Homo sapiens: one gene and its partners. The gene in region 2 interacts genetically with the main gene of each other region. Each region holds a gene or a part of one and is shown on either strand. Other genes may lie near its edges.

Region 1 (3,654 bases), on a different chromosome or scaffold from region 2:
GCAACATCTTACACCCCGCACCATGACTTCACCATTTGCTCCAAGACCAATTCCTGACTTCCTAGACCTCACTGTAGATCTCACTGCAGACTGGGGAATGACCAGAACTTGAGAAGCAATGTTTTCATTTTAAATGCACTCCAGACAAGCCCTGACCAGTGCCAATGGGGGTATTATTAGAAAAGGCATGCATACATTAACATATTTCCACCTCTGTTTGAGAGGGGACATTGAAATTAGGCTGACAAATGTCCACTAATTAGGCAGAGGCATTTTGTTACATCAGAACACATAAAACTGGTTATTCCATTAGGTCTTCCACTCATTTGACAGTTATAAAATGCACAGACAAATGAAGCACTGGAATTATTTTTTGTATTTTTACTAAATTTAGTATAATTCAGTAAGAATATTTTTGCAAAGTAGCTCATCTACTAACCAAAGAGGCTAGAATGGAGCCGCCAATCCATGAGCTAAACCTCCGTTCCACTGTTGTATTATTTGCAATCAATTTCAACCGCATACTCTGAAATAGAAGAATATGCATTAGTACAATCAAATCTTGTGACTCAACTTAGAAAATTCTTTTTTTTTTTTTTTTTTTCAAATAGAGACAGGGTCTTCCTCGCCATATTGTCCAGGCTGGTCTTCACATTTGCACTCAAGCAATCGGCCCATCTCAGCCTCCCAAAGTGCTGGGATTACATGCATGAGCCACTTGCACCCAGCCAGGAAATTCAATTTTGACAGACTTCATAATGGCTCCCTGTGGTTCAAACACTGATTAAAATACGGTAATTTTGAAATAGCCAAGATAACAAGCATAGGTTAGACTAATGTACAGACTTTTAAAAGTACTTTGATTATGGCTTTTAACATGCGATTATATGATGAGAAAACATACAAACTTTAAAAAGCTGCATACTGAAGTATAGCATTCACAATTTCTATCCTAAAATAGCAAATCCACACCTAACACTATAAATCTGGTGCTGTGCTAAGTCTTTATTATTTCATTTCATCCAACACCAACCTAATTATCATCCCAATCTGTCTCCCTTTCTGTAGTCCTCCCCAACCTTCTAACTGCTTCCTTTCTAGGCTTTCATGCTATCCTAATCCCTCCTTAGTTCACCCCAACCCTTCTAAATAAAAACACAACCATCAGATATCAGGTTAGTTTTTTATTCATACTATTTCCTTCCAAATTAGTGCTTCTGTTCTGACTCTCATTTTCTCTTGATAACACAATTTTATTGCACAGTACTATCCCCTATATCTCACTTCCTATATGAAGAGGTTTTTTTCTTTCTCTTACCAAGGAATCTGCCTCTGGGGACAGTTCTCAAGTTGTTGACATCTTCCTATTATTCTATAAATGAACATATTTTTGGGGCTTTTCAAAGTGAAATAAGTATGTGTGCAGCAAGGGTGGGTAGAGTATGGGATATGGGTGGGTAGAAGGTACTGGGGATAGGGTAAACATGGGTTTTTGTAGGTAAGAAAGATTGGTAACTATTAAATAGAATTTTTTTCCTGTTCTTTCAGAGATTGTTATCACCTCCTAAAGGACAAGGATAGTTTCTAACTGGCCTTGACCACAGCTTGGGCCATGCTTATCTGTATTCATTATTCAGGGACTTTCTATGAAATCTAATCATTAGTATTATAGACCGGTGCAGTGGCTCACGCCTATAATCCCAGCACTTTGGGAGGCCGAGGCGGGTGGATCACCTGAGGTCGGGAGTTTGAGATCAGCCTGACCAGCACGGAGAAACTGCATCTCTACTAAAAATAAAAAATTAGCCGGGTGTGGTGGAACATGCCTGTAATCCCAGCTACTTGGGAAGCTGAGGTAGGAGAATCACTTGAACCCAGGAGGCGGAGGTTACAGTGAGCTGATATCGTGCCACTGCACTCCAGCCTAGGGGACAAGAGCAAGACTCCATCTCAAGTAAATAAATAAATAAATAAATCTCCAATCAATCAATCAATCTAATGATTAGTATTATAATTCAGGTATGCTCTAGATCTCCAAGAATTTAGAAAATACAAGGCAGATGTCAACTGTGTGCCTATATATTTAGATATCACTTTTAATAATAGAAATGTGGCACACGTAAAACATTATTTTATATGGGAAGCTAAAAGACTATTAAATATACAGATTTATAGATATTGTTAGGGCATATGTAACCACTAATAAGGTTTTTTAAATGTAATCTTCAGTGCAGAACACCTTACAAAAAAAGCACTTGAAGTTTTGTTGTTGTTGTTTTTTTTTCCTGAGCCAGAGTCTTGCTTTGTCACCCAGACTGGAATGCAGTGGCATGATCTCGGCTTACTGCAACCTCCGCCTCCTGGGTTCAAGCGATTCTGCTGTCTCAGCCTCCCAAGTAGCTGGGATTACAGGCACGTGCCACCGTGTCCGGCTAATTTTTGTTATTTTTTTTTTTTTTTGAGATGGAGTCTTGCTCTGTTGGAATGCAGTGGTGTGATCTCAGTTCACTGCAACCTCCACCTCCCGGGTTCAAGCAATTCTCCTGCCTCAGCCTCCCGAGTAGCTGGAATTAAGAGGCTCCCGCCACCAGGCCCAGCTAATTTTTGTATTCTTAGTAGAGATGGGGTTTCACCATGTTGGCCAGGCTGGTCTCCCTGACCTCATAATCCATCTGCCTCGGCCTCCCAAAGTGCTGGGATTATAGGCGTGAGCCACCACGCCCAGCTGATAGAAATTTTAAAGTTAAAAGATTATAACTGTCATTCTGTTACCGAAGTACTATATAAATTACCTTCTCAAACCGAGTTTTTCTATTCTTTTAAAAGTTATTATAATATACCCACTGATCTTTTTAAAACAAACATGAGCTCATCAGTCCACTGCTAGATTTTATCCTGTGAAGAAGGAGGTATTTTCCCCTAGAGATTCAGCATAGCTCCACTGACACCTTGAGGCTTCTAGCCTCAAGAACTATAAGACAACAAATTTCTGTTGTTTGAAGCCACTAACATGTACTTTGTTACGGCAGCTCTAGGAAACTAATCCATCTTTCTAGCCATATTGCTTTCCCCACTTACGTAAAGACTAGAAGCCAACTACTTTGAATTACTGGAACATACCTGTCTTCTCTTAGTATTTTTGTAAATGGTTTTATTCCCTCCATCTAGATATCCTTTCATAAATTAGCAATGAGTTGAACTATTCATTCAAACTATAGCTTCTTCAGGAGGCTATCCTCTGATACTCCTAGAGAGTTAAGTAGTGGCTTCTTGGTGTTCCCAACAGCACCTCGTTCATGACATACTGAATTGTTGAGCATGTTACAGTCATCATTTTCTGCATGTCTAACCATCCTAGTAGACTGAGCCCTTGGTGTGCAGGGACTAGTGCCTAGCAGACTATACATATTTAAATATTAATAAATGAGATTCAAATAATTTAAGAGAAACTAATAGATGTCAACTAGGAAAACGATTAAAGGATATTAACTTTAGTGATACTATACCAGGCACACACAAAATATCATGTATCTATTGAAAAATGGACGCTTATCTACAAAATTACACCATCAGTGAGGAAATATATGACTGAAGAATACCATTAAAGAACAAACAGAACTTACTGGAGGAGTTTTCTGAGACAGCTCTCTATTC
Region 2 (3,252 bases):
CCTCCCCATCCTTCACTCCTCACTCAACCACAAGGCTTCACGTGAAGCTGGGGTTCCATTTTCTACATTAAACAACATTGCCTGAGAAATAAATAGACCCCAAGTTAGGAAATCAGGCTAGAACTTTTTTCTTTAATTCACTAAAGCTATAAATTAGACAAAATAGGAAGTCAGTTTTTTTTTTCAGACTGAGTCTCGCTCTGTCACCCAGTGACAATACTAGAGGGCAGTGGTGTGATCTCGGCTCACTGCAACCTCCACCTCCCGGGTTCAGCTGATCCTCCTGTCTCAGCCTCCCAGGTAGCTGGGACTACAGGTGTGTGCCACCACGCCTGGCTAATTTGTGTCTTTTTTAGTAGACATGGGATTTCACCATGTTGGCCAGGCTGGTCTTGAACTCCTGACCTCAAGTGATCTCCCCACCTCGGCCTCTCAAAGTGCTGGGATTACAGGCATGAGCCACTGCGCCCGGCCACGGAAGTCAGTCTTCTTAGAAGGAATCACGGCACTAGAGAAAATGATGATGGGAGCGACACCGTATAGAAAGACACTTTATTACACTGCCCACTCACACCAGGCCGGGACAGGAGTCACTCCTTAGAACCCCGAGCGGCTGTCCAGGCTGATGGAGGAGGGGACCACTCACCCGCCACAGAGCCAGCCCCCTCACATGGCTTCCTCCCTGAGGAGCATCTCCCACACTGGGGCTTCCAACGATCTTTGCTCTGCGTGTGCTGAAAGGACAGCGTCCAGAATCAGCCTCAGCCTGGACTTCTGTTACCATGGGAGGATAAGCTTGTCATGCTCACAGATGTGCACTCCTAGTGCCACGCCTCTAAACGTCCCCCAGACGGCATTGGGGCTCTCGCCGGGGAGCTTGGCTACTGTCTCGATCCCCGGCCAAGCAGGCCTCATGGCCAACTTTCTCAGTGTCCACAGCAGACAAAAATGTCCACAGCCAGAGCTCCAAAGCTCTGCCGGCCCTGGTGCCACTGCCACCTCTGCGTCCGGAGCCTGTGGGGCTCAGCTCTGCTGCTCTGGCCCAAGTCTGGCCTGGAGTCCCTGGTGCCCTTTGCAAGCACGGAGGCGGCTGGACATCCTTCGCATCACCAGCCTCTGGGCCTGCAAGCGCTTCCGGAGCTTTTCATTTTCCTTCAGAGTGAGGAAGAGTTTTTTCTTCAGGGAATCTAAGTCCAAAAGGGCATAGCTGTGATCAGATGGCTGCTTGTTGGGGGTCCTTCTCAGGCCTGCAGGGCCAGTCGGCCGGCCAACAGCCTCTGTTGCTTGCGGCCTCCGTGGCGAGACCTGAGGACAGGGGAGTGAGAGCCTAGAGCTGCATCACCAGCAGGAAGGCGGGCCATGGTGAGCAGGCCACCAGACACGCACACAGCACAACCCCAGGGCAGCTAGACACTCCGGGCTGCTCCCCCAAAATCCAGATGTGCCCACACCATGGTGGAGAATTTGACTGGGGAGCTCTGAAACCCAGGCTGCACACCCTGCCTCGGCCACACAGGTCTCATGGTGGGTGCTCACTGGTTTCCATTTTGTTTGGAGCAAGTCATCTTGTGTCCAACCACAGACCACCTTTGCACTCAGTCTTACCTGTTTTACGTGGCCTTCGGCATTTGGGGGCAACTGAAGCTCTTCAAGTGCAGTGTCCATGTTTCTCCCAGGACTGTCCTCTCCGGCCCCCGCCTCAGGGAGGACCTGGGAACGGCAGGGTGAAGTCTGCACTACAGCCCTGCACATGCAGGGCCCTCCTGCAGCTGCTACTTGTCCCTCTAGGGGAGTGGCAACAGCCAGGGACCAGCTCCAGGGTCTGTGCCCCTCCACAGCCAGCTTCTCCCTAGCACACACCCTGGAACTGAACTTTTTTTTTTTTTTGAGACAGTCTCGCTCTGTCACTTAGGCTGGAGTGCAGTGGTGCAATCTCGGCTCACTGCAACCTCCACCCCCAGGGTTCAGGTGATTCTCGTGCCTCAGCCTCCTGAGTAGCTAGAATTACAAGCATGTGCCACCACGCCTGGCTAAATTTTTTTTTTTTTTTTTTTGAGACGGAATCTAACTCTGTCACCCAGGCTGGAGTGCAGTGGCATGATCTCGGCTCACTGCAACCTCTGCCTCCCGGGTTCAACCAATTCTGCCTCAGCCTCCTGAGTAGCTGGGACTACAGGCACATGCCACTACACCTGGCTAATTTTTTTTTTTCTTGAGATGGAGTTTCACTCTTTCACCCAGGCTGGAGTGAAGTGGTGCGATCTCAGCTCACTGCAACCTCCGCCCCCTGGGTTCAAGTGATTCTCCTCCAGAGTAGCTGGGATTATAGGCATCCACCACCATGCCCAGCTAAATTTTTGTATTTTTAGTAGAGACGGGGTTTCGCCAGGCTGGTCTCGAACTCCTGACCTCAGGCAATCCACCTGCCGCAGCCTGCCAAAGTGCTAGGATTACAGGTGTGAGCCACCAGGCCCAGCCGAATTTTTGTATTTTTAGTAGAGATGGAGTTTCACCATGTTGGCCAGGCTGGTTTCGAACTCCTAACCTCAGGTGATCCGCCTGCCTCGGCCTCCCAAAGTGCTGGGAATACAGACGCAAGCCACTGCGCCCAGCCCGGCTAATTTTTATATTTTTAGTAGAGATGGGGTTTTTACTATGTTGGCCAGGCTGGTCTCAAACTCCTAGCCTCAAGACATCCACCCGCCTCAGCCTCCCAAACTGCTGGGATTATAAGCGTGAGCCACCTCGCCCGGCCCTGGAACTGAACTTTAAGAAATCAGGCACGGCCAGGTGCGGTGGCTCCCGCCTATAATTCCAGCACTTTGTGGGGCCAAGGCAGGAGAATCCCCTGAATCCAAGAGTTTGAGACCAGACTGGGCAAGATAGCAAGACCCCCATTTCTAAAAAAAAAAAAAAAAAAAATTTTTAATTAGCTGGGCATGGTAGCACATGCTTGTGGTCCCAGCCACTTGGGAGGCTCAGGTGGGAGGATGGCTTGATCCTGGGAGGTTGAGGCTGCTGCGAGCCATGACTGCACCACTGTACAGAGCCTGAGCAACAGAGTGAGACCCTGTCTCAAAAACAAAGAAAAAGGTTGGGTGCAGTGACTCACATCTATACTCCCAGCACTTTGGGAGACTGAGGTGGGAGGATGGCTTGAGCCCGGTAGTTTGAGACCAGCCTGAGTAAAATAGCAAGATGCTATCTCTACAAAAAAAAAAAAGTGGGGGCCCAGGCGCGGTGGCTCACACC
Region 3 (3,654 bases), on a different chromosome or scaffold from region 2:
AAGGGCTGGGCTCATCAGGTTCTTTCTCCCTGACCAAACTTTGGACTCAGGAATAAAAGCATAATGGGCCAAAGGTGCTGGAATAGACAAGCTTTGCAGATCCAAGAGCTGGGACAGGCATTAGGAGCCATGTCCAAATAGGTTTAATAGAGGAAGCTGGCTGGGAGAGAAGAAAACAGAAGCACAGAGAAGGCCTAGAAAATCTACTTTCACTAGATTTTTAGTTGCCATGAGATTCCTTGTGTACTCCTATAACAATATCTTCTCAGTTAAGCTTGCAAGAGTCTCTGTTGCACAAAACCAAAATAGCCCTTATCAGAATATTTAGCATATGCTTATTAGGTTTTTTTGCTTTGTTAAGGATGCTGTTTAAGAGAAAAATAAAATGCTAAACAGTCATTCTGGAAACTTTTTTTGATGGTGGATAAATTAAAATCTTTCTAGACTTGGTCATTTTATAAATAATGCCCAGTGGCATTATCTTTTAGGGTGTCCTATTTTCACCTCCATTTTTATTCTGCTGTTCCTAGAAAGCTACCTCCCCATGTACCACGTTCCTTGGGCTCTAAATATTCAGCTAAAAACCATCTGTAGGCCCTGTACTCTGTTAGAGAATGAAGAACTTAAAAAACCTCTTGTTAGTATCTCACAAAGTTATCTAAAGTGAATCAAATGTTTACATGTTTCAGAAACTAGGTAAGTGTGCCAATGCTTTAATCTGTTTTGATGTGTCAAAAAGGCAGTGGTATGTTACTGATTTTTAATCAGATGGGAACAAAAAAATTTAAGAAATAAAGAGATTTCCATTTTCCCACACTTTTCTCTTTTTTTTCTGAAGAGTCTCACTCTGTCACGTAGGCTGCAGTGCAGTGACACAATCTTGGTTCATTGCAACCTCTGCCTCCTGGGTTCAAGCAATTCTCCTGCCTTAGCCTCTCAAGTAGCCAAATTACAGATGTGTGCCACCATGCCTGGCTAATTTTTTTATTTTTAGTAGAGACAAGATTTCGCCATGTTGGCCAGGCTGGTCTTGAACTCCTAATCTCAAGCGATCTGCTGCATCTGGCCCAGTTTTTTTTCCATAGCTTACAGTTAAGAGGGGCATTTACAGGTAGAGTTCCATGATTTCTGTTAGAGGCCAACCATTCTCTCTTCAAGGAAGACAGTGCTGATAACATCAATGAAGAAACCCTAGACTGCCAACCCAAGGCCTGGGCTGACTAAGGTGTTTTTTTTTGTGTTTTTTTTTTTTTTTTTGAGACAGAGTCCCACTATGTTGCCCAGGCTGGATCTTGGCTCGCTGCAACCTCCGCCTTCCGGGTTCAAGTGATTCTCCTGCCTCAGCCTCCCAAGTAAGCTAGGATTACAGAAGCGTGCCACCACGCTCGGCTAATTTTTGTATTTTTAGTTGAAACGGGGTTTCACCATGTTGTCCAGGCTTGTCTCAAACTCCTGACCTCAAGTGATCTGCCTGCCTCGGCCTCCCAAAGTGCTGGGATTACAGGCATGAGCCACTGTGCCCGGCTCACAGGTGTTTTGTACAAACAGATAAGCAATGGGAATTACTGTGAATGACCATATTATCTCTTACTCTGAATACGGCAACTAACAAGTCATAGTACTTCAGTGGGATAGCATGGCCAGGGCTTGCTGGGCCTGCCAAATTGGCACAGCTTGTGCAACTGGGTTATTAACTTGGATTTGACTAGAAAAGGATTTGGGACACTTCCCTCTTGTATACTAGGAGATGAAATAACAGACTGACCTGTAGACTTTCATGCAGCTGCAGGGCTTCCTGGGCTCCCACCCAGTTGTTGGCCAGAAGCAGCTCTTGGGCACATCTGAGAGCCAGGGAAGCAGACAACTCATCCTCTCCTACGATGGCAGCCAACTCTGCAGCCGTTCTAAGTGATGCCGCATCCCCCTTTTTGGCCAAAACTTTGGCTGCATCATAAGCACAAGTGGCCCCTAAATAGCTATAATATGAATAAAAATGTGAAGAAAATGTCACAAACAGATTTTTATTCCCATTCCTAGAGGATGGAATCATTTCTTTCTATCTACTTTGCTGCATGTGCCTTCCTGTGGTCCCAGGTATGTCACTGCCCCGGTTGTTCCTGTGAAGGCTGAGGCCAACACAACTCAGCAGAGTGTATGAGAAACAATATCATATAGGTTAAGGACATAAGGAAAATGAGAGGGAATGACTCCTCTGTTGGGTTCAATCCAGCATGGGTTGAGGTTCCTTTATTTGATGTTATAAGAGACCATTAGAAAAATGCATAATTTCTTAATCTGCTGCTGAGGTTTTTCTTGAATAGTTATAGTGATTTATATAAATAAATCAGGAAGTAGTTCCTGATGAGTCTTATGAAACTAAGTTGAATATACATATCTTTTAAATAATTCCTTGCTGCTTTACCTCCACCTCTAAACTTATTACTTGTATTCTTGTCCTCCCCTTCCTGGCAGAAGCTCTCCTATGTTGGAAGCATCCCTCCACTCCTCAGGCTTACCATTTGGCAGCTACAGCATAGTGGCCATCTCTTTCTAGGACGGTTCCCCAGCTGAGGTACAAGTCCTTCAGGACTGGGTCCTCCGGGCGCAGCCGGGCCTTGGCAATCGCAATAGCTTCCCTAAAGGCAAGAACAGACCCTTTAGCCAATCTGAAAAGGCTCCTCTGTGTATGGTCCTAGGAGGGGCTGTAAGACAGGACAAACTGTCCCTTTTGTGTTGTCTTATTGTTCCAACTTCCTTTAAAAACTGCACTTGCATTATATAGACAAATTAGAAACATATGCTGCATTCGTTTCTTCACTTAGATCAGCAGTTCTTAAATTGTGGTCTGTGGATTCCTAGGGGGTCCTCAAGAACCTTTCAGAGGGTTCATGAGGTTAAAACTATTTTCGTAACAATGCTAAGAGTCAGTTATGTGCTTTTTTATTAAAAAAAAAAAAATGTGTTGACATTTGCACTGATTGTGCCAAAGCAGTGATTGGGAAACCTGGCATCTAAGAAGGAAGGCGGTGGCTCTTACAGTGGAAAAAAAGGAAGAATGCCCTTAATGAAGCAGTAAAAATTACAAATTTTACTAAATCCGTCAAGTCCAAAACACTTTAATATTCTGTGTGACAAATGGGAAGAACATTTTGTGTTCTCTGCTGCATTCCAAAGTAGAATGGTTGTCTCTAGGTAACACCTGTATGAACAAATTACAAGCTAAACTGGCTGCTTTTTCATAGAACCTTCTTTCTTCTAAAAAAAAAAAAAATGACTAACATAAATAACAGTTATTCAGTGTTGGGTATTTGGCAGATGTTTTTCTCAAAAATGAACAAAGTAGGCCTATCACTTCATTAAAAACAACCAACAGTATTTGTTACTAATGATAAAATGCGAGTTTTCTAGCAAAAATTAGAATTTTAGAAAACTTGTACCTACCACTTGTGTGCCTGAGTTTCCCATAAGTTAGAATTTTCTGATGAGACTGATGGTGATAGTAAGGAATGTGGTATTTTTGGGTATTTTATAATAAGATATGTTAACATTTGGAAGATCTGAACAACTCAGTAAACAAATATTTTTCAAATGACATACAACTGCTGAGTTGTAGCCAACATAAAGTTGTAGCTGGGAAAAAAGTGTTTTATTAGA

The links.
Region 1: changes in THAP3 (region 2) and ACTL6A together harm fitness more than expected from each alone (negative genetic interaction), as found in Homo sapiens cells (one large-scale study listed by BioGRID).
Region 3: changes in THAP3 (region 2) and GEMIN5 together harm fitness more than expected from each alone (negative genetic interaction), as found in Homo sapiens cells (one large-scale study listed by BioGRID).

Annotation. Positions count from the first base shown.
Region 1 is NC_000003.12:179,583,418-179,587,071, reverse strand, and holds part of ACTL6A (actin-like protein 6A), read right to left. Parts: coding exon 3,624-3,654; intron 527-3,623; coding exon 440-526; intron 1-439.
Region 2 is NC_000001.11:6,630,849-6,634,100, reverse strand, and holds the end of THAP3 (THAP domain-containing protein 3), read right to left. Parts: intron 1,732-3,252; coding exon of another isoform or gene 1,711-1,731; coding exon 1,606-1,710; intron 1,306-1,605; coding exon 1,024-1,305; 3' UTR 539-1,023; downstream 1-538. UniProt on the Homo sapiens protein: Component of a THAP1/THAP3-HCFC1-OGT complex that is required for the regulation of the transcriptional activity of RRM1.
Region 3 is NC_000005.10:154,896,675-154,900,328, forward strand, and holds part of GEMIN5 (gem-associated protein 5), read right to left. Parts: intron 2,637-3,654; coding exon 2,517-2,636; intron 1,977-2,516; coding exon 1,766-1,976; intron 1-1,765. UniProt on the Homo sapiens protein: The SMN complex catalyzes the assembly of small nuclear ribonucleoproteins (snRNPs), the building blocks of the spliceosome, and thereby plays an important role in the splicing of cellular pre-mRNAs.